Linked DNA regions of Homo sapiens: all the other regions are linked to region 3. Evidence: fine-mapped expression QTL. A gene starts in region 3. Each other region holds a variant in brackets. All regions are shown on one strand. Distances are between the middles of the regions.

Region 1 (8,181 bases), 380 kb before region 3:
GTAACTTTACCACATTTACTCAGTTGCAAAGCCAAAAAGAGATCTCCAATCTTGACTCCTGATGAAATTTTTCATTATGTCACTGGAATGAATTTTTAAACTATGCCTACAATTTTTACCCTGACCACTAATTCACTTCTTTCTCACGGCTGGAAGTTAATAAATTGCTTTCAGAATTGATCAAGGGTTCGAATATTGCAGAGTATGTGCTCAGGGCTGGGCCAGGAGCAAGGCCTAGGAGAGATGAGGACACTGGTTGTTGTGATAGAGTGGGGCCCCTACAGGGAGAAGTGCCATGTGTAATGCACCATGGGCGCACACACTAAGGAAAGGAATAGTCATTCCATACTAGTTTCAACAAAAAACAGCTGAGAGAGCAATGAGAAAAAATGTAAAAGAAAACTCTCATTCTTTAATAAAGTGAAGGCAAAAAAAAAAAAAAAAAAAGAGCGGCCGGGTGCAGTGGCTTACGCCTGTAATCCCAGCACTTTGGGAGGCCAAGGGGGGTGGATCACGAGGTCAGGAATTACTGGTGATCAGCCATGGTTTGCCAACATGGTGAAACCCCATATCTACTAAAAATACAAAAATTAGCTGGGTGTGGTGGCATGTACCTGTAATCCCAGCTATTCAGGAGGCTGAGGCAGAAGACATGCTTGAACGTGGGAGGTGGAGGTTGCAGTGAGCCGAGATCGCGCCACTGCATTCCAGCCTGGGCAACAGAGCAACACTCCATCTCAAAAAAAAAAAAAAAAAGAAGCAACACTATTAGGAAAGACTTACTCCTGCTACATTAGAACAAGGCAAGGATGATGGAAGATACAGAAAGCTTTCCTTTATCTAAGTTCCAGGCAGAACTAGATAGAACAGAAACCTGGAGCAGAGCTATTGCCAAAGCCCTGAGCTCAGGTTAAAGGAAACTGTCACCGTTCCATTTCTCCTTTGAGTTTCAAATTTGGTTTCCCAGTGTGCCACTGTAAAAGAGTCCAGTACTGGGGAGAAAACAAATTCCCAGCTCCCACAACTTACAACAATTGAAACTAGTTATTTAGGATTCCCAGAAAGGATTAAAAAAAAAAACTCATTTGTTTATCCTTGCAGGTCAGTTAGGTTAATAACCTCAATTGACCACCATGAATGAAAAAAGTTAAGGAAGAAGAAAACAAATATGGATTTTGCATTTATTGTTTTTGTCTTACCAATTGCAATTTGGGGGCCTTGAGGCAATTGTAGCTGATGGAGGTTAAACAAGGCAGATTGTTGGTTTACGGCCCATTCTTGGCAATTTGGAAGTAAACGATAACCAATATTTACTCAGGCTGCTAGTTATATATGCTTCCTCCTCCTCTCTATCAGATGACACAAAGTAGTGAGCACCACATGGAGAGTGCCCCAAAATTTACAAATCGTCACATATATCGTATCTCATCTAATACAACAACCAACAAGACTAAAGTGTTCTTTCATCATGTGACAAATGATAAAGGGAGAACTCAGGGAGTTACAAAAATTTCCCAGTGCTCACCAGGTAACTGGAAGAGGCTGGATTGTAACGCAGAGTTTCTGACACCAAGTGCCCTGAGCCACGTGTACTCATTTAATATCTTATCTCTCATTCTCCTTTCCTTTGCTCACATGTAAAGAGCTGAGCAGAAGAGGTTTTTGAATGTTGGGTTTTAGGAGGATTTGTGGATTTCAACTCTCCGTGTTCTTCCTATGCCCAGATTATTATCAATAACATAGAGTTGGCATTATATGATCTTTTGGGTCTCTGGAGAGAAAAACCAATAAGGAAATAAATAACCAATTTATTTCCAACAAATTGGTTGGAAATAAAACAAATATAGGCTTAGCATACATTTGGCAGGGTTGGGGAGGGGGTGGTGGGCAAGGAAAGTCTAATAGTCTTCTCTTTCTTGGTTCTGGAGCTAAGAGTATCAAATCTCCAGTGGGAAAGTCAAACCTACTTTCCAGTCAAATAATGAAGCCTTCCATGTTAACCCCTACACAAGAGGTGCAAAGAGAATGTATACAGGGATCCTTTTATGGATGTTCTGGAAAGACAACACCTGTTCTTTGGGCCCTAGTGCCTTTGGTTACACCCAGGTTTTAAGGGGATGAATATAAATCATTTTGGAAGATTAAAAGAAACCCAAAAATTATAATATTCTTTTGCCTCCCAAGAGAAACAATCTTCAGATAATTGGGATTTGATGAGAGTGGTGGAGCTATGCAAATCTTATGCCATTATGAGCATGCAATAATTCAGACTGTTAAAATTACGAAGCAATCCCTTTGCTGTGTGATTCAGAAGGCTCGGCTCCCTACCTTCAGATTAAAATGAAGACTGAAAGACTAAACTTCAACTATGTCTGAATGTCTGTGGGCTGTTTTCCCCACAACTAACAACATTATTTAAACTCCCAACTTTTAAACTGCTAAAACCATGGAAACATTAATAATGGCCCTCCTTCATTAAACCTCAACTTCCCCTCCCACTTGTACTTTTGACCAATTTATTCACTTCAAAGCAAGCAACAGCATCCTGTTCAGTTACTCAGTAGGACCTCTGTACCTTCACCCAACACCTTACACCAAAAGAACACCAAAACCCACAAAAAAAGTCATGATCTCTACACTCCTCCTAGTCTATTGAAGGCAATTATGTAACCTCAAAGTTTTTGCTTTTATTTTTTATTTTTTCAGTTGCCATGGGAAAGACTGTTTGGGCAGCTCCATCTGCACAGGGTAATTACTGGCCTCCCAAAACGCACTCACTCTCACACACACACACACACACATACACACACACACACACACACACACAAAACCTGCAATGATATAAAGAAAAGGTAAACATAATTTTAAACATTTTCAAAGAGGCCAAGAAGGCATTAAACAATCAATATATTACTTTGCTACTGGCAGAAATAAACAAAACAGCCATTTACTGTCAAGAAAACAGCATTTTCAGAGCTGAAGTAGTAATAATAGCAATTAATATTTCCTCAGAATTTAATATTTGTCAGGTACTGTGGACTAAGTATTTTACACAGATTATCTTAATAATCTCCATAAATATAAATCTACAATTCCCATTTTTACAGAAAATAAATGAGGTTAAGAGAGGCTGAGTCACTTGCACAGGGCTGATTAGTAGTGGAGCCAGGATTCAAACCCAAAGCCCACAGTCTTGGTGCTCTCACTGTGCCTCATGGTGCCTGCCTGCCCACAGCCTGTGTTATCATCACAGCTCGCTTCTGGTCTGGTCTAATGACCTGTTGAAGGAACTCAAATGATCACTCATCTCATCTACTGAAACTAAGAATAATTCAAAATATTTTGGGGTGTCAAAATGCATATGGCCAGCCTGAGCTGAGAACCTGTCTCTACAAAAAAAATAGATTTAAAAAATTAGCCAGGCACAGTATTGCATGCCTGTAGTCCCAGCTACTCAAGAAACTGAAGTGGGAGGATCACTTGAGCAGCTGGGAGATCAAGGCTGCAGTGAGCCATGATTGCACTGCTGTACTTCAGCATTCCAACGTGGGCGACAGAAAGAGACCCTGTCTTAAAAAAAAAAAAAAAGAAAAAAAATGCATTTGACCACAGGCTGCACCAGTAACAATGATCTTATTTCAGTATCTACGGTACAATATAAGTATGCATATGTGACATTCAAATACTGTGGCCTTTTCCATTTTCTTAATCAGTTTCAATTTCTCAGTGTTAACTCCTTAATTTAACACTTATCGATAAAAATGCTATCTGCTAATGTGTATTGTAACATTAATTTTGAGTTTTAGGAGATTTGTGAGTGTGGGGTAAGGAGAAGAGCTATTCAGCTCTCATCTATTTTATTTTATTTTATTTTATTTTATTTTATTTTATTATTCCCAAGAGAAGAAATATTTTTACTTTGGCTTCTTCATGAATTTAGGTAATTACTGAGATTCTTGCCATCTTTATATGCTGGATTTGATTCCCTGTGGTGGAAAATGCATACAGTTCCCAAAGAAATCTATGTTAATAGTATAGAGTTCAAATATTAAAAGAGATTAAGTGGTATCAGAAGCAAAGCCTTGGACCAGGCCACCAATCTCAATGGGTAGATCATTTAACAAGCCAACACATGCTAATAGAATCTTCTAAAGGGCTGGACACCTCTCACAAGGTCCCCCTACCCACCTTGACTCTGTTTATCAAGGGAGGAATCCCGACAGCATGGAGCCCCCAGGCCTCCCCTCCTCCATCAGCACAGCATGCCCGCAGTCACAAGCTGCCTGCGAGTTTGGTAAGACTCTGGCTCCAATCCCTTGGCCTCATCTGACCCGTCTTTCTGCCGTATCACTTATCTCCTGGAAAGGAACATGTTTCCAAGCTTCTTCCACATCAGCAGTAGGAAAGGAATTTGCAGTCTTTGAGTATTAAGTGACCTGGGTAGAAAAAAGTCTTAGAAGGGAGGTGAGACGGAGGGGTGGGGAAGTACAATGAGATACTTT[T/C]ACTTTGCCAAATTCCCATCCCTTTTTGGCCGTAGGCAATGCCAGAAGAGAAAGCCAAAAGGAGGTAGGAGGGTAAGTGGAAACAGCTCCTCCTCTTCCCTTGCACTTCCTGGCTGGATATCTGTAAACATCTCTCTACCACCCTTCCCCAAGCAGGGAGCCTGGATATACACACACTTGCCTAACTGCTGGAGCCACACCATCCACATTAGCTACCTCTCTAAATCCCTGAGAAGCAGGTCAGGCACAGTGGCCAGGGTGGGGACAAGGTGGATCCACAGAAGGCCACCTGATGACCTTTCCATTAACAACCAGAGCTCTTGGTGCTGCCTCCCAGAGATGAGTAGGGGAGGTGTCTAGACAAAGAAGAAAATAAAAATGTTTTCTTCCTTCCCTTCCCTCAGTCATACTTTACATCTTCCTCTGGGCACTGCAGTAAAAAGAAGCAAGGAGGTGCACCTGGCCGGAGAGCAATCTCCAGGAAGCTAGATGAGCCATCCTGTGTGTGGGAATGAAAGGCAGACCAGAACAGAAAGCAGTGAGGTTGTGATTCCAAAATCCCAGCTCCCAAACCTGTGGCCAGAGCAGAGCCTGTAATTAAATGTGAACTTGCCAGTGGCTCTCTTAATACATGAGGCAAAAAGTTAATGTCTGATGGACTGGGGCCCATGCCAAACTCCAGCTCAGTTGCCTCCCCACAGGGGACTAGTTCAAAGAAATGAGATCTAGTGGTAGTGAACAAGCCAAGTAAGTTGCAGGGAGGCCCCAGCTCACAGGTCTGCCTTTGGACCCCCTCCTCTGGGCTTCCCTAATACTCTATGCACAGCTCCTCCCCAGGTACTCACAGCCATCATTCATCCTTTATTGATCTGTCCTGTCCATGAAGCAAAGTGGAGGGCTGCCCTTTTCTGGACTTTACGTGCTTGGTACCAAATACACTAGGTCTGCACTGTCTAATACAGTGGTCACTAGACACATGTGGCTCTTGAGTCCTTGAAATGTGATCAGTCCAAACTGAGATGTATCTCAAGTTTAAAACAGTGGATTTCACAGACTTACTATGAAAAATACAGTTAAATAGCTCATTAATTTTTATATTAATTAAATATTGAAATAATATTTTGGATATATTAGGTTAAATAAAGTGTGTTATTAAAATCAATTTCACCTAATTCTCTTCATTTTTTTTTTTTTAGCATGGCTACACATGTGGCTTATATTATATGTCTATTAGACAGTATTGTTCTGGGTATTCCATGAGGGAGGGAGGGAGGAAGGAAGGAAGCAAGGAAGGAAGAAGGAGGGGGAAGGAGAGGGAGGGAGGAAGGGAGGGGGGCGGGCAGGTGGGCAGGCAAGAGAGAGAAAGAGAGTGGGGAGAGGGATGAAGAAGGAACACCAAGAGAAAGAGAAAGTTGACTGGAGATCAGTATAAATGCTTTTAAATCAACATATAACAGAAATGGTTTTAAAGAAGTGAGGTTATTTTCAGAAATAATTTTTGTATCTGGAACTACATTTCATTCTGAATCATTTGCTGTGAGAAAATGCTTACTAATCATCCAGGACTCCTAAAGGATGAGAGAGCAACAGACTGTCGGCCAGGCCACATCACAGAGGCCAAACTGAATCTTCAGTCCTGTGGTAAAGACTCGGGAGAGCAGAAGGGAATTGTCACTTGGAGATAAAACAATGAATCTGGAAACCCCACAGTTTTCCAAACTTCTCTTTATCCTAAATGTAACAATTCCCTCAGTTCAGCTGATTAAATATATTCTTTAAAACTGTTTTTAAAAATGCACAACCTTCCACCAAACATTTAAAGAAGTAAGCCAGGCGCAGTGGCTCACACCTATAATCCCAGCACTTTGGGAAACTGAGGCAGGTGGATCACCTGAGGTCAGGTGTTTAAGACCAGCCTGGCCAACATGATGAAACCCTGTCTCTACTAAAAAAAATACAAAAAATAGCTGGGCATGGTGGCACATGCCTGTAATCCCAGCTACTTGGGAGGCTGAGGCAGGAGAATCACTTGAACCTGAGAGGCAGAGGTTGCAATGAGCTGAGATTGCACCATTGCACTCCAGCCTGGACAACAAGAGTGAAACTCCGTCTCAAAAAATAAAAATAAAAATAAAGAATTAACACCAATCTTTCTCAAACTCTTTCAAAATACTGAAGAAGATAAAACACGTTTTGTTTGTTTGTTTGTTTTTTGAGACTGAGTCTTACTCTGTTGCCCAGGCTGGAGTACAGTGGCGCAATCTTGGCTCACTGCAGCTTCTGCCTCCTGGGTTCGAGTGATTCTCCTGCCTCAGTAGCTGGGACTACCAATACACACCACCATGCCCAGCTGATTTTTGTATTTTTAGTAGAGATGGGGTTTCACCATGTTGGCCAGGCTGGTCTTGAACTCCTGACCTCAGGTGATCCATCCACCTCAGCCTTCCAAAGTCCTGGGATTACAGGCATGAGCCACTGCACCCGGCTGATAAAACACTTTTTAATTCATTCTATGAGGCCAGTATTACCGTGATAGCAAAGCCAGAAAAAGAAAGAAAACTATAGACCAATATCCCTTATAAACACTGATGTAAAAACTGTCAACAAAATACTAGCCATCTGAGTTCAGCAGAATATTAAAAGAATTATACACCACAACCAAATGAGATTTAGTCCCGAAATGCAAGGATGGTTTAACATAGAAAAATTGATATAATATATAATGTTAACAGAATGAAAGACTAAAACCACATGATCATCTCAATGTGGTTGATTCAGAAAAAGGACTTGACAAAATTCAATACCCTTTCATGTTGAAAATACTCAACATACTAGAAAGAAATCTACCTCAATATAATAAAATCCATATATGAAAAAACCCATAGCCAACATCATAATGGTGAAAGACTAAAAGCATTTACTCTAAGATCAGAAATAAGGCAAGGATGCCTGCTTTCACCACTTCTATTCAACATGGTACAAGAAGCTCTAGCCAGAGCAATTAGGCAAGAAAACGAAATAAAGGCCATCCAAATTGGAAAGGAAAAATAAAACTATTTCTGTTTGCAAATGATCTGATCTTATCTCCGAAAGATCCCCCGATCCCGCACTCAAAAAATTGTTAGAGATAATAAATTCAATAAAGTAGCAGGATACAAAGCCAACATATAAAAGTAAGTTGCATTTATATATACTAACAATGAACAATCTGAAAAGGAAATTACAAAAATGGTTCCATTTATAATAGCATCAAAAACAATGAAATACTTAGGAATTAATCAAGGAGTTAAGAGACTTGTACAATAAAAACTTTCTGAAAGAAATTTAAAAAGACATAAATACATAAAAACACATACCATGTTCATGAATTAGAAAACTTCATACCGTTAAGATATAAATACCACCCAAAGCAATCTGTAGATTCAATGCAATCTCTATCAAAATCCCAATGACAATTTTTGCAGAAATAGAAAAATCCATTCGAAAATCCATAGGGACTCTCAAAGGACCCTGAATAGCCAAAAACAATCTTGAAAAAGAACAAAGCTGAAGGATTCACACTTCCTGACTTCAAAACTTACTACAAAGCTACAGTGATCAAAACATGGTGATACTAGCATAAAGACAGAGAGATGCACCAGCAGAACAGAAAACCCAGAAATAAAACCTCACATATATG
Region 2 (8,181 bases), 53 kb after region 3:
TACACTGATCAATGTAAACATGGTTAAGTGGATGCTATTATGTATGAACAACATTTATAACTAACTGCTTTCTAAAATTAACTTTAAAACATATGCTGTACTTTAAATTTTTGTCTAATGCCTATGGAAAAGATGGTAAACTGTGGAACTACGTTCACTTTTTTTTTTTTTTTTTTTTTTTTTTTTTTAACACAGGGTCCTGCTCTGTTGCCCTGGCCGGAGTTCAGTGGTGTGATTTCAGCTCACTGCAACCTCCACCTCCTGGGCTTAAGTGATCCTCCTGCCTTAGCTGAGACCACAGGCATCAGCCACCAAGCCCAGCTAATTTTTTTTTTTTTTTTTGTAGAGATGGGGTTTCACCATGTTGCCCAGGATGGTTTCAAATTCCTGGGCTCAAGCGATCCACCTGCTTTGGCCTCCCAAAGCAAGCGTGGCGTGAGCCACAGCACCTGGCCTCACTTCTATTTCTTATCAGCTATTACTTTGGCCAAATTACTTAACAAACTCTCTGTTATTTATTTTCTTACCTATAAAATGGGGATAAATAATAACTATCTCATAGGGTTGAAATTAAATGAAATAATATACATATATATATATATATATAAAGGACAAGTATATAATAAATGCTTAATAAATGTTGCTATTGATGCCATTAGTGGTGGTAAATGGTGGTGATAAAGTTTAGTAGTAATTTCACTGGGCTCAGAGTAAGCCACTCAATAAAATCCTGCATGAAAATTGTTTTCTCTGTCTCTACCAGGTAACAAATTACTTTCAAGAAACAGACCAGGCTGGTCATGGTGGCTCATGTCTGTAATCCCAGCACTTTGGGAGGCCAAGGTGGGCAGATCACTTGAGGTCAGGAGTTTGGGACCAGCCTTGCCAACATGGTGAAACCCCGTCTCTACTAAAAGTACAAAAATTAGCTGGGCGTGGTGGCAGGCGCCTGTAATCCCAGCTACCAGGGAGGCTAAGAAAGAAGAATTGCTTGAACCCAGGAGGCAGAGGTTGCAGTGAGCCATGATCTCCAGCCTGCACTCCAGCCTGGGCAACAGGGCAAGACTCCATCTCAAAAAAAAACAAAACAACAAAACAAAACACAAACAAACAAACAAAAAACCAGACCACTGGACTAAAAATGACTTCGTCAACATGAATTTGTTTTCCCCACATAAGAAGTTTGGTGGTGCTGTTCTTGAATTGGTTCCATAGTTCATCATGTCAGGGCCCTGGGTCAGCCTTCCCAGGGTTCTCTGGGCATTTGCTCCTGGCCACAGGACAGCCACGTAGCTGCTCCAAACATCACACCCTGTGCACGCTAAGCAGGAAGGAAACAGGAATAGGCACTCATCAGTGGCCTCTCACCCATTATCAGGCAGGAAAATCGCTCTGAGACATCTCCCTCCCCTCCCCGGCAGACTTGCCCTTAGGTCAACTTCTCGGACACAGGGTGCTCCTGGCAGAAAAGGAGTCTGGGAATTGAGCATCTGCAATTTTCAGCCACAACAGAGGGGAGGCAGATCTGCCAGCCAGGAAAAAAGGTGAACCAAGGCTTGCCACCTTATTTTAACTTTATTTTTCCTTTTCATTACGAACCAGATATATTGTTTTCAAAGGTTCATTTCAGAGACCTAGCCCAAAATATAATGTGCCACCTCAATCTCTATACAAATGTTCATTGTCAGAGGTAAATAAGTAAATAACCCTTCCTCCCTCCTGAATGCAGCAGAGCAGGTAATTGTCAAGCCATTTAGACATTTTTAAAAACCCTAAAAACAAAATTGGGAAGCCGTGAGCCAGATGGTCTCCCATGATTGTTGCTGACTCGATGACTCACTCTTTTGTCCCTTGTGTTTCAGAATTTCTTTTTCAGAAATTCCCCTGATCTCATCTCTCTGTTTTCTTCCTCTTCCATTAGATGGATCAAATGTCTTCCAAAATATCACCTTCCTCTTCTAGCAATACAACAGCAGGGAAACGGTGGCAGAAACAGTACAACATGAGGGCTTGAGTGTGCTCTGTGTGTGTGTGTGTGTGTGTGTGTGTGTGTGTGTGTAGGGAATGTGGACAGAGAAAAACTAGATTTACCTTTTAACCTCACCCTGTTACCTTCCAAACATACAAAATACTTCAATACCTTCCTGGTAATCACGAGGCTCAGCTCACTCTCCACTCTTCCCCACACCTCCCATCCCTGGCCCAGTGAATTCCCTGCTCCCCACCTGCCAAAAAAGAAAAGGGTAGGGGGCTAAGAAGATCTCCAGCCTCTGAAAAAGGAAAGCAGAAATCGCCAGGGCTGGAAGCTCCCTCTCTACGGCACAGCAGACAGCGGAGTGACAGCAAAACCCTCTTCTGCTTCCTGCCTTTCAAAGGAAGCACACTGAGGCACTCACCTAACCAGCTGTCCTGCATCTTGTTCCAGGAAGATAATAAGGATTCCCAAACACAGCACATGCCTCACCCAAAGCCAGTGTGGGCCAGCAAAATGGAGATGCGTTGGAGAGACTCAGTGTGGATGCCCCGTTGGAGAAACAGGATCAAAATCATTGTATACCAACTAAAACCACTATCAAATACAATTCAGATGGGATCAATGATGGGTCCCATGAGCATCAGATAGGGATGCTGAAGCTTAGCAGCCACATAAGAGAAAAAGTCCACTTTGTGGAGGGCGAAGCTCTGAGACAGCAGCAGTGTGACCACCTCTGGGAAGACAGGGTGACTTTAGGAAGGTTTGGGGCTGATGGGACACATGTAAGCTTTATGCTGAGGGATGCGGTCTTCAGTCTTCAAAGACCCTTCAAAAATGTGAAATGTCCACAGCAGAGAACTAAGACGGGGGTCATCTGGAATAATGTCTTGTAAAGAAGCAGTGATAAAACTGGTTGAGAATGTTACCCTGGTGAGGGGGAGGCTTAGGGTCACAGGAGCACACCCTCTGTCACTGCTAGGAGCAGTGTAGTAGTTAAGCGCTCCGTTCTTGGTTCCTACTTACAGAGTTTGAATTTTGCCTGTTGACTAAGAACTAAGATTCTTGTCCACTCTGAGAGAAATACATGTGGTAGAGAATCCATGCAAATGCATGGGACCTGCCCATAGGAACTGTTGAGTGTTAGCTTCTGTTATTAAATTCCTCTCATCTTGATTTAAATAATTTGGCGAGTTTCCACAAGTGCCTGAGGCTGCAAAGAAGTGTTTTAGGGAGCTCCAGATAACATTTTCAGAAAAAGTCACCTATCGTTTGTGGATTACATACTAAATAGGTGGTTCTCAAACCTCAATTTGAGAAATATTGTTAAAGCCTTCCATTAGGGGATAATCCTATTAAATTTAGAAAATTTGGCAGAATGAGGATTTGTAAAGGAATGCAATGTTCTGTGGAACATTAAGTGTCTCTAAAAACACTGAATAAATATATAACGATATCTCCTTGCATTTGTGAGCTGCCTATAGACACCAAGTGCTTACACATGTGCTGGTTTATTTACTGTCTGCTGAATTATCAGGAAATTCTACCTGCCAGAGATTGCTACCAGCCTACTGGAGCTGGTTTCTGGCCCTTGCTTTCTGTTCCTTATAGGGTTGGCTTGGAGAGTAACTTTCTTATTGTCCATTTTTGGTAGCTACTCCATAGTCAGTTG[C/T]CATTTCCTAGTAACCCTTTTTGCCTCTGATGAGACAGGGCATAACTCACCAAACGTAACTATTCCTGAAATAGACACTTTTAAACATACTTGTCATGAATTTCTCAAGTGCGGTTTGCAAACCACCTGCATCAGAACCATTTTTGTTTGTTTGCTTAAAAATGTAGACATACAGAGGTTCAGACATCCTGATTCCACCTCAGGGTAGTTAATCCAAATTGCAGGGCAGGAGGACTGGAAATCTACATTTTTAACAAGCACCCCAGATGATCCTTATGCATGCTAACAATTAAGGACAATTGTTCTCATGTTTCAGGAGCACAATTAAAAATAGTTAAATCCTGCGAAGCCGGCTGCTGGACAAAGGCAAATACAAAAATAGAGAAATACAAAAAGGACTCAGAGGTATAGACCATCCCGGAGCTAGCAAATCACACACCAAACCCACCACCAGAGACTCTGAGTTGGGGCAGGTACAAAATTTAAATGGGGCTAAAAAACTCATTAATAGGGACAAATAATGCTTAGTGACATAAATATATATATAATATTAAATTATATTATATATTATATTATAATTATAGTATATATAATATATTTTATATATATATATACATTTTTGAGACAGAGTCTCTATCACCTAGGCTGGCGTGCAGTGGCGCAATCTCGGCTCACTGCAACCTCTGCCTCCTGGTTCAAGCAATTGTCCTGCCTCAGCCTCCCGAGTAGCTGAGATTACAGGCATGCCACCATGCCTGGCTAATTTTTGTATTTTTAGTAGAGAGGGGGTTTCACCATGTTGGCCAGGCTGGTCTTGAACTCCTGACCTCAGGTGATCCACCCACCTCAGCTTCCCAAAGTGCTGGGATTACAGGCATGAGCCACTGCACCTAGCCAGTGCAATATTTTTAAAAGTCAAAATCAATGCAAAAATATTCATAATGAACAAAGGCATGAAAACTTTAAATGAAGACTAGATCAGTACTACCCATGTTTTCCTTTTGCTTCGGGCTCCACTATGGCACTCTCCGGCACTGCCAGGACGGCTCTTCGCTGTCCAGTCTGTGTGCTAACGGGACAGTACTTGTCCTATCTCACTGTATCTAAAGGAGGAGGCTGGAACAGGGGAATGTCAACCATCTTATCCTCGTGTTGCAGTTCAGAGAGTTTAAAGTCAAATGCCTAATTTTACTAACTTCGACACATCATTCTTTCCTTTGAAAATAAAAGTTAGATTGAGTTCTGTAGTTCTTAACCAAACAGAATTGTACTCCAGTGACAGGATTAACTTGCCAAAGACATATAGGCTCATAAGAAGCTGCCTACCCTGCTGATGGCTCAGTTTAAGGGACTCTCAGAAGCGATTGTGAAGGCCAAATAGGCCCCTCTGTAGGGTGTCACTCTGCCTCAGATGCTGCTTTCTGATAGACATTTCTGGGTGTGTAAAATTTTAAATCCTTTATAAACATCAATGATTCGCATAATTGGTGTAATTATAGGTATCTAAAAAGCAGAAAATGCCTGTGTAACAGCTGCCAATAGTTGGTTTCAGGAAACATGCAGTCACTTGTGGAGAGCCAGGCTTGGGGTATAATGCTCAGATAATATTACTTCCAGATGGACCAACTTGAATGAGAGATGGCAAGGAGATAGAGGAAAAGTGCTCCCTCCCCAGGAACCAAGCCACGCAGGAGTCCAGGGGTGGAAAATGCTCTCTGAGGGTCTCCCCTGACTGCACAGTGCGTGTGCACAGGTCCCACATCTACAATGGGCTCCAGCTACTTATGTGAGGAAGGACTAGAAAGGAATAGTTTCAACCATCCTTTGTCAGCGCTATTTTTAAACGCTCCACAGTTGTTAAGGCCTCTATTAAAGGTAAGAGAAACTGGCATACAATTGGCAGTCCCTAGTTTACATATGTCTGTCTTCTTCCAAATGGGCATGGAGGAAATGAAAATATTTTTAATTTCTCTACTCCTTAAATATGTGGGGCTGTTTTGTTCATAAAATGCTTGTGGTTTATTGAGAAGTTCTTAAAGCCAATTCTGTTAGTGGTAGGTACTTGAACCTGCAAACATTGCCCTGAGTACTCTCCTACTCTTTCAAAGAACAGGTGGGTTTGGGTGGAGAAGGATAATTAATTGGGAGAAATGGAAACAATTTAGAGGAATTGACCCTCGGGCAGATTCCCAAGGCCTGCTACCACTTAGCCTGCCAAAATGGCCGCCAATTACCAACCTACAGCTAAAGAGATCTCCGCCCACACTTTCTGAATGAATGTTCTCACTTCATTTTGTCAAACTACCCATCCTTCTACAAATGAACAATCTGAACTTAACTACAATCTTCTTTTTTTTAAATGTGCATTTATGTAGTAGTAAATCTCCCAATGTATTTAGCACTGCCTCTTTCAAAGACAGGCTTCTGGACCTACTTCTGCCTGGGGGTGGGGGAACAAACTGCAGTGTGTTTTGAGACTACAGATAGCCCCACAACTACCCAGGAACTTCAAATAAATTATTAAATGGTCCTCACCTGAGAACCATTTAATCAAAAAGTTTCAGTCAGGACGGGCGCAATGGCTCACGCCTGTAATCCCAGCACTTTGGGAGGACGAGGTGGGCGGATCACCTGAGGTCGGGAGTTTGAGACCAGCCTGACCAACATGGAGAAACCTCGCCTCTACTAAAAAACACAAAATAAGCCAGGTGTGGTGGCACATGCCTGTAATCCCAGCTACTTGGGGGGCTGAGGGAGAAGAATTGCTTGAACCTGGGAGGTGGAAGTTGTGGTGAGCCGAGATTGCGCCATTGCACTCCAGCCTGGGCAACAAGAGCAAAACTCTGTCTCAAAAAAAAAAAAAGTTTCAGTCATATTGATGTTAAAACACCTACCTAACAGCAGTCTTAAAGGAAAACACAGTGGGTTTTATTGTGTTTTATTATGATTATTATTATTTATTATTGAGGGGACAGGGATTTTTATAACGATTTTGATAATAGTTAATTTTGGAGCATGAACCAGCATCCAAGACAGAACAGGCCTGAACATTATGTTATGATGTTTGGTATGTTGTTATGTTATGTTATGTTATGTTATGTTATGTTATGTTATGTTATGTTAATATGTTTGGGGAATTTGGTAGGATCAAGCCAGGGAGCTAGGTCAAATGGCCCCTAAATATTCTTTGTCATCTAAAAAGTTCAAAATTCTGTGATCAGTGACTCTATGATCACATCCCAAAATAGTAGGTTTTTTTTCTCCATTTTTAAAGCAGAATCATTTATGTAAAACAGATGAAAGAGGAACTGCTCTGGGTGGTTATGTGTGGATTTTCTCTGAGTATATCTGTGTAAAGGAGAAAGAAAGGGGGTAGTGTATCTTGGTCTCTATGATGACTAGATAAGATTGAACTCCCACAAAGCAGACCCAAACCTAGCCCAAAATATCTTTTGCCAGTTTGTCACATGGATGTTCTGTTGTAGTGAGAGGTGACAGCATGCTGGCAGCCCTCACAGCCCTTGCTTGCTCTCGGGGCCTCCTCGGCCTTGTCGCCCACTCTGGCCGCGCTTGAGGAGCCCTTCAGCCCGCCACTGCACTGTGGGAGCCCCTTTCTGGGCTGGCCAAGGCCGGAGCCCACTCCCTCAGCTTGTGGGGAGGTGTGGAGGGAGAGGCCCCGGCGGGAACCTGGGCTGCACGCGATGCTTGCTGGAGAGCGCGAGTTCCGGGTGGGCGTGGGCTTGGCCGGTGCCGCACTCAGAGTGGCCGGGAGGCCGCGCCAGCCCCAGGCAGTGAGGGGCTTAGCACCTGGGCCAGCAGCTGCTGTGCTCAATTTCTCAGAGGGCCTTAGCTGCCTTCCCGCGGGGCAGGGCTGGGGACCTGCAGCTCGCCATGCCTGAGCCTCCCTACCCCCCTCCCCTTGGGCTCTGGTGCTGCCCGAGCCTCTCTGACGAGCACCGCCCCCTGCTCCACGGCGCCCAGTCCCATCAACCGCCCAAGGACTGAGGGGTGCGGGCGCACGGCACGGGACTGGCAGGCAGCTCCACCTGCAGCCCTGGTGTGGGATCCTCTGGGTGAAGCCAGCTGGGCTTCTGAGTCTGGTGGGGACTTGGAGAACCTTTTTGTCTAGCTAAGGGATTGTAAATACACCAGTCGGCACTCTGTATCCAGCTCAAGGTTTGTAAACACCAATCAGCACCCTGTGTCTAGCTCAGGGTTTGTGAATGCACCAATCGACACTCTGTATCTAGCTTCTCTGGTGGGGACTTGGAGAACTTTTGTGTGGACATTCTGTATCTAGCTAATCTAGTGGGGAAGTGGAGAACCTTTGTGTCTAGCTCGGGGATTGTAAACGCACCAATCAGCGCCCTGTCAAAACAGACCACCGGGCTCTCTGTAAAATGGACCAATCAGCAGGATGTGGGTGGGGCCAGATAAGAGAAAAAAAGCAGGCTGCCCCAACGAGCAGTGGCAACCCACTCGAGTCCCCTTTTGCAGTGCGGAAGCTTTGTTCTTTTGCTCTTTGCAATAAATCTTG
Region 3 (8,181 bases):
CATATTGACTTCAGATATTTGTAGGTAAAACGTTTGTCGAGAAATAATACTGTACTTTCCACCTCCAAAAAAAAAATTCCAGCAGACAAACTTTTATTGAGAACATTTAAGGAAATCTGAAATTTCCATACAGAACACTTAGTTGAGAGTATACTTTACAGAAAATTTAAAGCATATTTCCTGAACTAATGCTACCTGAGCTAAGCATTCAAACAAAATAATTGTAATTAAATCACATTAAGTTTATCATGCCAAGGCGGGGCACGGTGGCTCACACCTGTAATCCTAGCACTTTGGGAGGACGAGGCAGGCAGATCACCTGAGGTCAGGAGTTGAGACCAGCCTGGCCAACATGGGGAAACCCGGTCTCTACTAAAAGTACAAAAATTAGCCAGGCATGGTGGCAGGCACCTATAATCCCAGCTACTCAGGAGGCTGAGGTGGGAGAATTGCTTGAATCTGGGAGGCAGAGGTTGCAGTGAGCCAAGATCGCGCCACAGCACTCCAGCCTGGGCAACAAGGGCAAGACTCCGTCACACAAAAAAAAAAAAAAAAAAAAAAAACTTGATGATGCTGTTAACTCTATTGTTCAATGATGTAAAAACAAACTTTACAAGAGAGGATGTATCTTATTTATAGAAGCAAGTAACAAATCATAGAATCTTAATGTTAAAAGATTTCAAAAATGTTTTAAGTTATTTAACTTAACCTTCATTTTATTGGTAACAAACAGAAGCCCAGGAAGGTTAAGTAGCTTGTTTATGTTTATACAGCTAGAAAGAAGCAAGTTGTAATGTTCCTTTTTTCCTCATAACAAGATAAAAATGTTTCCAATTCCCAGTTAATTTATTTGACCAGACCACAGAAAGAAAGTTCTTACTTTCCATGGCAAACAATCACTTAAACAAGGATTGTAAATATATCAAAATTAACTTTTTATATTACCAACAGTAGTTATGTGAATTTTTAACTACTTTCTCACAGAGGTGAACAAAAACTAATTGTAAGACTTAAAAGAAGGAATAGAAGACTCTTATGACCACTATAAAAACTTGATGTATGCCATAAAGGTTAAACAAATGTACGGGCTCTGTTATTACAAACTCAAGGTTTTCACTCTGAGAGAACTTACTGTATTTTATATAGACTCCCAGTCATTAGACATTTATTTTGGGCCATTTTTGGATTTTGTTTACCAAAATGAAGTGTCAAAATGAAGAAAAATAATAGTAATGCAAACAACATAAGTTCTGCTAACACAGAACTTAGAAATATCTACTGCAATATTTAAGAAGCAAATCAATCACAAATAAAGTAGGATATTTCCCTGCTGGATGCATCATCATTACAAAATTTCCTTAGTGACCATATAATCTGCATTCATTATGTGTGCTAATGTTGAAGAACAGATGGTAAAATTAATAAAATTCCATCACAAATACCCAAATCATCATCCTAAATAAGAAAGGATCTACAGAAAACAGTTTAAAACAAGGAAGTCCAAAGTCATAAATCACTCTGATAACACAGCCGCTCAAAATAACTAGTCAAATCTCTGGGTATAAGCCCCAGACCAAAAATGAAGTCCTCGTAGAGTATCTAAAAAGCAACATACCTTCTTTAAGGTGGAGAATTCCCAGCGATCAAATTGTAATCCATATAGAAAAGGTATCATCAAAAATTCCAATGATTTAACTTTTAAGCAACTCCAGATGAATCCAGGAATGATTTGACCTTGTATTGGTACTTCCATATTGTTGGCTGATGGAAAGATCCAGTAAGAACAACGCAGAATGAAGGAGGTCAGTGCTAGGAAGTACTCCAGCAAATTCATGATGCTTTCTAGATGCTGATAATAGTAATTACACCTATACAATTGAAATTAATTAAAGTTAGCTTCCAGGTCATTCTGCCTCCTCACTTTGTAAAAGAAAGTAATTGTTGCAATAATATATTTCAGTCTTTGATATGAAAACTCAAAACTACATAGTTCTAGCAGTTGAATCATTTCTAGGTACAATAGTAACTACTTCAATAGTAACTACTACTATACAGAATCAAAAGTTGAAGAAGTTAAAAGACAATGTTTGGGCGTTTCCTCAAGTTATTGACAGTGCATGCGCTTTGATGTTTCATTTGTCTTGTCAAAAGTAAGTCCAAGGAAGTGAGGAAAGCCTCTAGCACTTGGGAATATATGAGAGAAGAAAGTGGAGAAGGTAATAAACTATCCTGGCATCAGAAATGATCTCACAAAACATACCTGAAGATAATAACCTTTAGGTTATTCTGCATGTAGAATTCAAAAAGCCTATTCTGCATATTCCTAATATTTAGATATCACCTCAGATAAGGCATACATTTGCCCACTTTCAATAAACCCCCAACTTCAGTCTCCAAAATGCTTTTCCTTTTTTTTTTTTTTTTTTTGAGACAAAGTCTGGCTCTGTCACCCAGGCTGTAGTGTAATGGCACGATCTCAGCTCACTGCAACCTCAGCCTCCTGTGTTCAAGCGATTCTCCTGCCTCAGCCTCCCAAGTAGCTGGGACTACAGGCACGCACCGCTACGCCCAGCTAATTTTTGTATTGTTAGTAGAGACGGGGTTTCGCCATGTTGGCCAGGCTGGTCTCGAACTCCTGACCTCAAGCGATCCACATGTCTCGGCCTCCCAAAGTGCTGGGATTACAGTGAGCCACCGCGCCCGGCCCCCAAAATGCTTTTTCTACAAACCAAATGACAGTATGGGATAAACAACTCCTGTATAAAGTGGAAAAGCGCTGGGAGAAATTGTACCTAAAGTGGCAACGTTTACTGGGTGTTGAGTGTTCCCCTCATTCGCGCATGACCCAACCTAGAAACATTCCTAAGTTAAGCTACTTAGGAAACAAAGTTAGGGCGTCTTCCTTAGCCTATAAAAACGGAGTGGACTGCGCTGCCTCTTCACCCCGCAGCAGCAGAAACAGCCATCCCTCTTTTGGACGGGCGTGGCAGATAGAAACAAAAGGTTAAAACACAAAAGGCGGGGCGGAAGGCTGGGTCAGAGGAGCTTCTGGGGCTCACGTTCTGCTTTCTATTCAAACACACTGAAGTGGGGTTGGGGGCGGGGGGTGATGGAAAGTGAGAGAGGTGAGGACGGATACCAAGGATTGCCTGGGTTATTCCGGGTGGATCGTGAAACTGAAAGGGGCGGACGGGATGGCTCTAACTAGTGGTCCAGGCCCCATCCCCTCCATCCCTGCATCTCTGACAGTCTGTAACCTGTGGCTTCCTCCACCCCATCTCAGCCCCGAAGAAAACTTTCTGAACTCTTAGCTGTTTGTTGTAAACCTCTCCTTGACCGCTAACACAAGGGACCAATCCCCTCCAACCCAAACCTTTCTTCCTTCCATTGTTGCAGCGTTTTTATATTGTGCGTGGTATCTACAGAGCGCTCTGCAGACAGCTAAGTTATACAAACGACCCCCATATCCATATCGCTTTCTTTTGCATGACCAGGGTCAGGGCTAGGGTGGGGGCGAGGCTGGACTTGACCCTCTCAATTTCTGCATATTCATCCCTACATGAGTGCAGCTGGAAGAACGCGAAGCAATACCCCCTCACCCCACCCTTTTGAAACCCTCCTCCCCATCCCCCCAGCCCCTCATATAAAGAAGCACATAAGATAAATGCCTACTTGGCTTTTGCCTATTAAAAATAAACAAATGAAACAATTGCGCGAGTTCTTTAAAGAACAAAAGAGAAGGGAACGGGGAAAGGAGGTACAATTTACCAGCCAAACTTTGCCACTGGGCTACTCCTCTGCCCTCCGAAGGGCGGGGAGCGGGGCGAGTTGAGGGGAGAGAGGTAAACAAGACAACAGTCCCCACTCACCTTCTTCCCCACTTCGTCGCACTTTTAAGGGACATTTCCCCCGCTGCAGTCCACGAGGCGTTCGGACACTTTTTCCCGGCCTGACAGCAGAGAAAGTCGGGGCGGCAAAGTTGCGAGAGGGAGATACCCCGGCGTCCGGGGGAGAGGGGAGGAAAGAGAGTTCATCAGAGTTCCCCCTTTTGTTCCAAGTCCCGGAGCAGACAAAGAGGCGGCGAGCGGCGGCAGGTTTCTCCCTCTCACCCCTTCTTCCTCTCTCCCTCCCCTCCCTCCCCGCCCCCTCCCTCTCCCCGCATCTCCCGCCCGGCTCGGGAACCTCCGAGGCGAGCTGGGGCTGCTCGGTCCCCAGTTCATCACAACTCTGCCCAGACGGTCTCCTCCCACTGCCAGGCTCGAAACTTTCCCCGGGAGATGCCAGCCCTGGCCCCCTCCGCACCGCGCACAAGTCTGGGGTGGTGGGCAGGGGATCTCCAAAATCATTGTTTCCCGGAGATGCACCTCTTTGTTTGCACTTTCCCTGCCAATCAATGTGAAACATTCACTTGGGCGTCGAGTTTCTGTCCATTTTTCGTCATCCCAAGAGACAAAATGCAAAGGGTAGGGGGTCAACCCTAGATAAAGGCGCTTACACAATCAGAGGTGGGGCGCAGGCTAGGCTCTTCATCCTCCTTCCTCCTCTCGGATTCACCCTCCTCCCTCCTCTCGGATTCACCCTCCTCCACCCAATACACAGAACAACTCAAAGGGGCTCCAAGTGTTAGGAAACTCCTCTCCCGCCCTTCCCCACCTACCCCCACCCACGCTGTCCCTCTGGAGAGCCCTCTAATTGGCAGGACAAAGGCCAGCTCCGGGTTCGGCCGGGGCCTCCGCCCATCCCTCGGGGCTACCTGTTGCTGCAGGCGCAGCGCAACTCGGTCCAGGGGCTCCGAGGAAGAATTCCCAGCTCCAGCATCGCGCCCACCTTCTCAGGCCCCGAACTTCCCCTAATCTCAAACTGCGAAGGCAAGGCTCTCAGGATGACCAGGCGCCCTCTGACCCTACAGCCAGGCGCTGCTCACTCGTCCTCTTCCCTACACCACGTCCTCGTGCTCACCCCAAAGATCTGACTCGGGGTCCCAGGCCGCCTCCTCATCCTCCACCCCCTGCCGCGACACGTCCCAGCCGAGCATCCCCTCTTTCCTTCCCCTCCCCCACTGCCTTGTCCGGGACAAATCAGGTGTCTCGGACCAGGAACAGCTCCCGACCCTTCCCCAGGTCCCTTCCAGTCATTCTCAACCTCCAGAATTGGGACCCCATCCACATGGTCCCCCACCCCTCGACCCTGATCCCAACTTCGGGCCATAGCATTAGCTCGCTGAGTGACTCAGAGCAGCACTCGTTTTCCTTCTAGATCCACTAGAATTGAAGAAAAAGAAAGCAGGGAGGTGGGGGAAATGGGAGAGAGTAGGGGCCCGCATGGGGAAGCAATTTCTAGGGCAAAAGAAAAAAACATTTCAATGCGAACACCCACCCTCCAGTTGGTATCCAGCCCGTCGCGCACCTTTGCCTCCACCCTCTTTCCTTTCTCCCCATCCCAGACTTGGAATCCTTTCGGGTTGGTGAAGTTTGGGGGTAGAAGGATGAGGTAGACGGAACCTTGGGGACCTGGGGGCTATGTCCTGGGTTGGCTTGCGGGGGGAGGGGCATTAAGAGGAGGGCTCCCGCTGGGTCCGGAATGTGGTGGCGGTAGGTCCCTGCACCCGCCCGGCGACTCCTTGCCAAGGTCTCTCCTCCAGAGCAGAACAAAGACGCCGCGAGGAGAGCTTCTGTCCTCGCCTCCCCCGCCCCGCGCTTCACTCGCACCAGCCCACGCCGCTCTCGGAAACTTTACAACCAACTTCCCCTAGAGTTCGTGCGCGCGGCGAGTGGGCCAGAAGGAGAAACCGGGACAATCGCATCCCGGGACCAGAGATGCCCTCTTCCGCGTCCCCTCCTGGACAGGGAGCACCACCTCTTGCACCGCCCGTCCCAGTCTGCGAGCTGGGCGACCCGCGGTGCCAGGGCGAGCGGAGCACGCGCTTTTCCCAGCCCCTTAAGCGAATGATGTTTCTTTAGTCTGGACGCGTACAGTACTGGGCAGTGGGGTCGGAGATAAAGAAGCGGCCGCCGGCCACGCGCAGGGCCGCGGCTCTGGCCGCAAAGTGAGGCCGAGAGCGCAGGAAGAGCACGGGTGTGAGCCGCGCCCGTCGGGCCGGGTTCCTGCGCGTCCCGTTCCGCCCTCGGATCCCAGCGAGCAGCCGCGAGGCAGGACTCAGGGACCGCCCGGGCGGACCTCCTGGAACGTCGGCCTCCTCACCTGCGGGGAGCCCCGACACCTGCGCCGTCTCCTTGCGGAGCCCTGGGTCTCTTGGGCAGTCAGTCGCCTACTGGAAGCTCAGGAACCTCATCTTAGGCGAGGAATCTTGAACGCACCACAACCAACCACAAAGAGAAAACAGCCCCCACCCACTCCTGTCTGGCACATTTTCCTCTTTGTTTAATTATGTTGACTTCCAGAATTCTCTTTTTGGGAGAAGCCTACCCTCCCCCAGACAAAACCTTTCCTTCTGTTATCCTCAGGGATCTGCGTGGAAAATAATGAAAAGTCAGTACTTTGAGACAATTCCATTCTGTTGCCTCTCGAAAATGCTCCAGGTTATAGGGTAAATCAACCAAGATAGAATTTTTGACTTCGAAATAACACCCAATACTCCGCTTACTAATCAGAGCTATTAAAACATTACCGATCCTTTGAAAATGTTTACTGTTTGTTTCTCTCTTTTTTATGGGAATGAAGAGTAAGGGTCATTTGCTAGGTGCAAAAGTCAATATGGCCTTAAGAAGGCTTTCTTCCTGCTGCCTGTCTTTATGAAATATTGCTCTCAGAGCTGTTTGAAGTATCTCCCTTTCCCAACCTGCTTGTGAACAAACATTTCTTCCTGGAATCTTGGTCTTCAACAGGTCAGAGCTCCCCCATCTCTGTAATAAAGCCCACTCCTGGGACAATGTATGAGCTGTTCACTCCTACCTTTTAAAAGCATACCATCTTTTCTCAGATGCCACCACAGCTTTAATATATTTTTAAAGAGTTAATTAACATCATCTAGGCTCAAAGATGGATATAGCAGAGCATATCAGCCAGGTATCTTTTCTGTACTAACAGGGCTGGGGCTCCACCAGTATGTCATGGGCTTCCTACTGGCAGGCCAATGGCATCTTACTCTTCCCTCTCTGCTTCCCCATTCAAGGGCTTCCTGTGGCTGCCAGACCCCACTTTGCCAGTGCAGAGGGGCAGGGCAGAGGAGCCAGGCAGTTAATTCCTCTCAGAGCAGCCCTCAACCAATCAAAGATAGGTGTTGAGGCCAGGCATGGTGGCTCACACCTGTAATCCCAACACTTTGGGAGGCTGAGGTGGGTGGATCATTTGAGGGCAGGAGTTCGAGACCAGCCTGGCCAACATGGTGAAACCTTGTCTCTACTAGAAAATACAAAAATTAGTGGGGCGTGGTAGTATGTGCCTGTAAACCCAGCTACTCGAGAGGCTGAGACAGGAGAATTGCTTGAACCCATGAGGCGGAGGTTGCAGTGAGCCTAAATAGTGCCAGTGCACTCCAGACTGGGCAACGGAGTGACACTCCATCTCAAAAAAAAAAAAAAAAAGGTGTTGATATAAAAATACTCCAGCTTCCCCACTGAGCTTAGGACTACGGTAAATTGTACTCTAGTCTCCCAAAGGTGCCCAACTTTGAGTTTCAGATACACACAGCAGTAACCTCCCCTTTAGGGAACAGTGTTACCTGCCTGCCATCCTTCCTTCCTTTCTTCCTTCCCTCCTGGTTTCTCTACTTATTTCCTTCACTCTCTTCCCTGCCAATGCTTTCTAGGATCTCATCCCAAATAGATTACAATACTTGCCCTCAAATCCTACCCTTTGGGTCAGTTTCTGGGGAAACACAACTAAGAAACCTCTTATATATGTTCTTTCTAAAGGGAGGACTCTGTTCTATTTGGAGAATGAAGTTACAAGATCCGATTTTCTCTAAAAAAGAAGTTATTTAATTAATGAGAAATGTCTTGAGTTATCTAGTTCATTTTCTATGTAATAGTTTAAAATTAGATAGCTTACTGAAGGAAACGTTAAGTAGCAATAAGTAGGATCATATGTCATACGTGAAAGTTTTGCACAGAGAGTCATTAAACAGAAAGAAGCTCCGTAAGTCTAATGCTAGCAATCAGCAATGCAACAGGAAATACTGTTAGAATCACACTTTTGAAAAATTAGTTAGAAGTAACATAG

Evidence for each region. PIP is the estimated chance that this variant, and not a neighbour inherited with it, causes the effect. A credible set is the group of variants that fine-mapping cannot tell apart.
Region 1: its variant is the best candidate, but not a certain one, in a credible set for the expression of CASC15 in lung (TOPMed, PIP 0.61).
Region 2: its variant is the best candidate, but not a certain one, in a credible set for the expression of CASC15 in sigmoid colon (GTEx, PIP 0.70).

What each region holds. Positions count from the first base shown.
Region 1 is chr6:22,039,902-22,048,082 of GRCh38, reverse strand. All of the region lies in intron 7 of CASC15 (cancer susceptibility 15), which reads right to left. Among named protein-coding and RNA genes, the nearest start is that of NBAT1, 100 kb to the left of the region's middle. The variant T/C (reference allele first, on the strand shown) is at 4,503.
Region 2 is chr6:21,609,373-21,617,553 of GRCh38, reverse strand. No RefSeq gene overlaps it. Among named protein-coding and RNA genes, the nearest start is that of SOX4, 20 kb to the right of the region's middle. The variant C/T (reference allele first, on the strand shown) is at 3,645.
Region 3 is chr6:21,662,334-21,670,514 of GRCh38, reverse strand. CASC15 (cancer susceptibility 15) reads right to left here and starts at 4,102. Exons shown (of 12, transcript NR_015410.2): 1 at 3,870-4,102; 2 at 1,616-1,868. It overlaps LOC124901483, which reads left to right and starts at 4,455. Exons shown (of 3, transcript XM_047419653.1): 1 at 4,455-4,463; 2 at 4,700-4,868; 3 at 5,557-5,974. The coding sequence starts at 4,455. The coding sequence ends at 5,960. RefSeq lists a silencer at 4,543-4,837.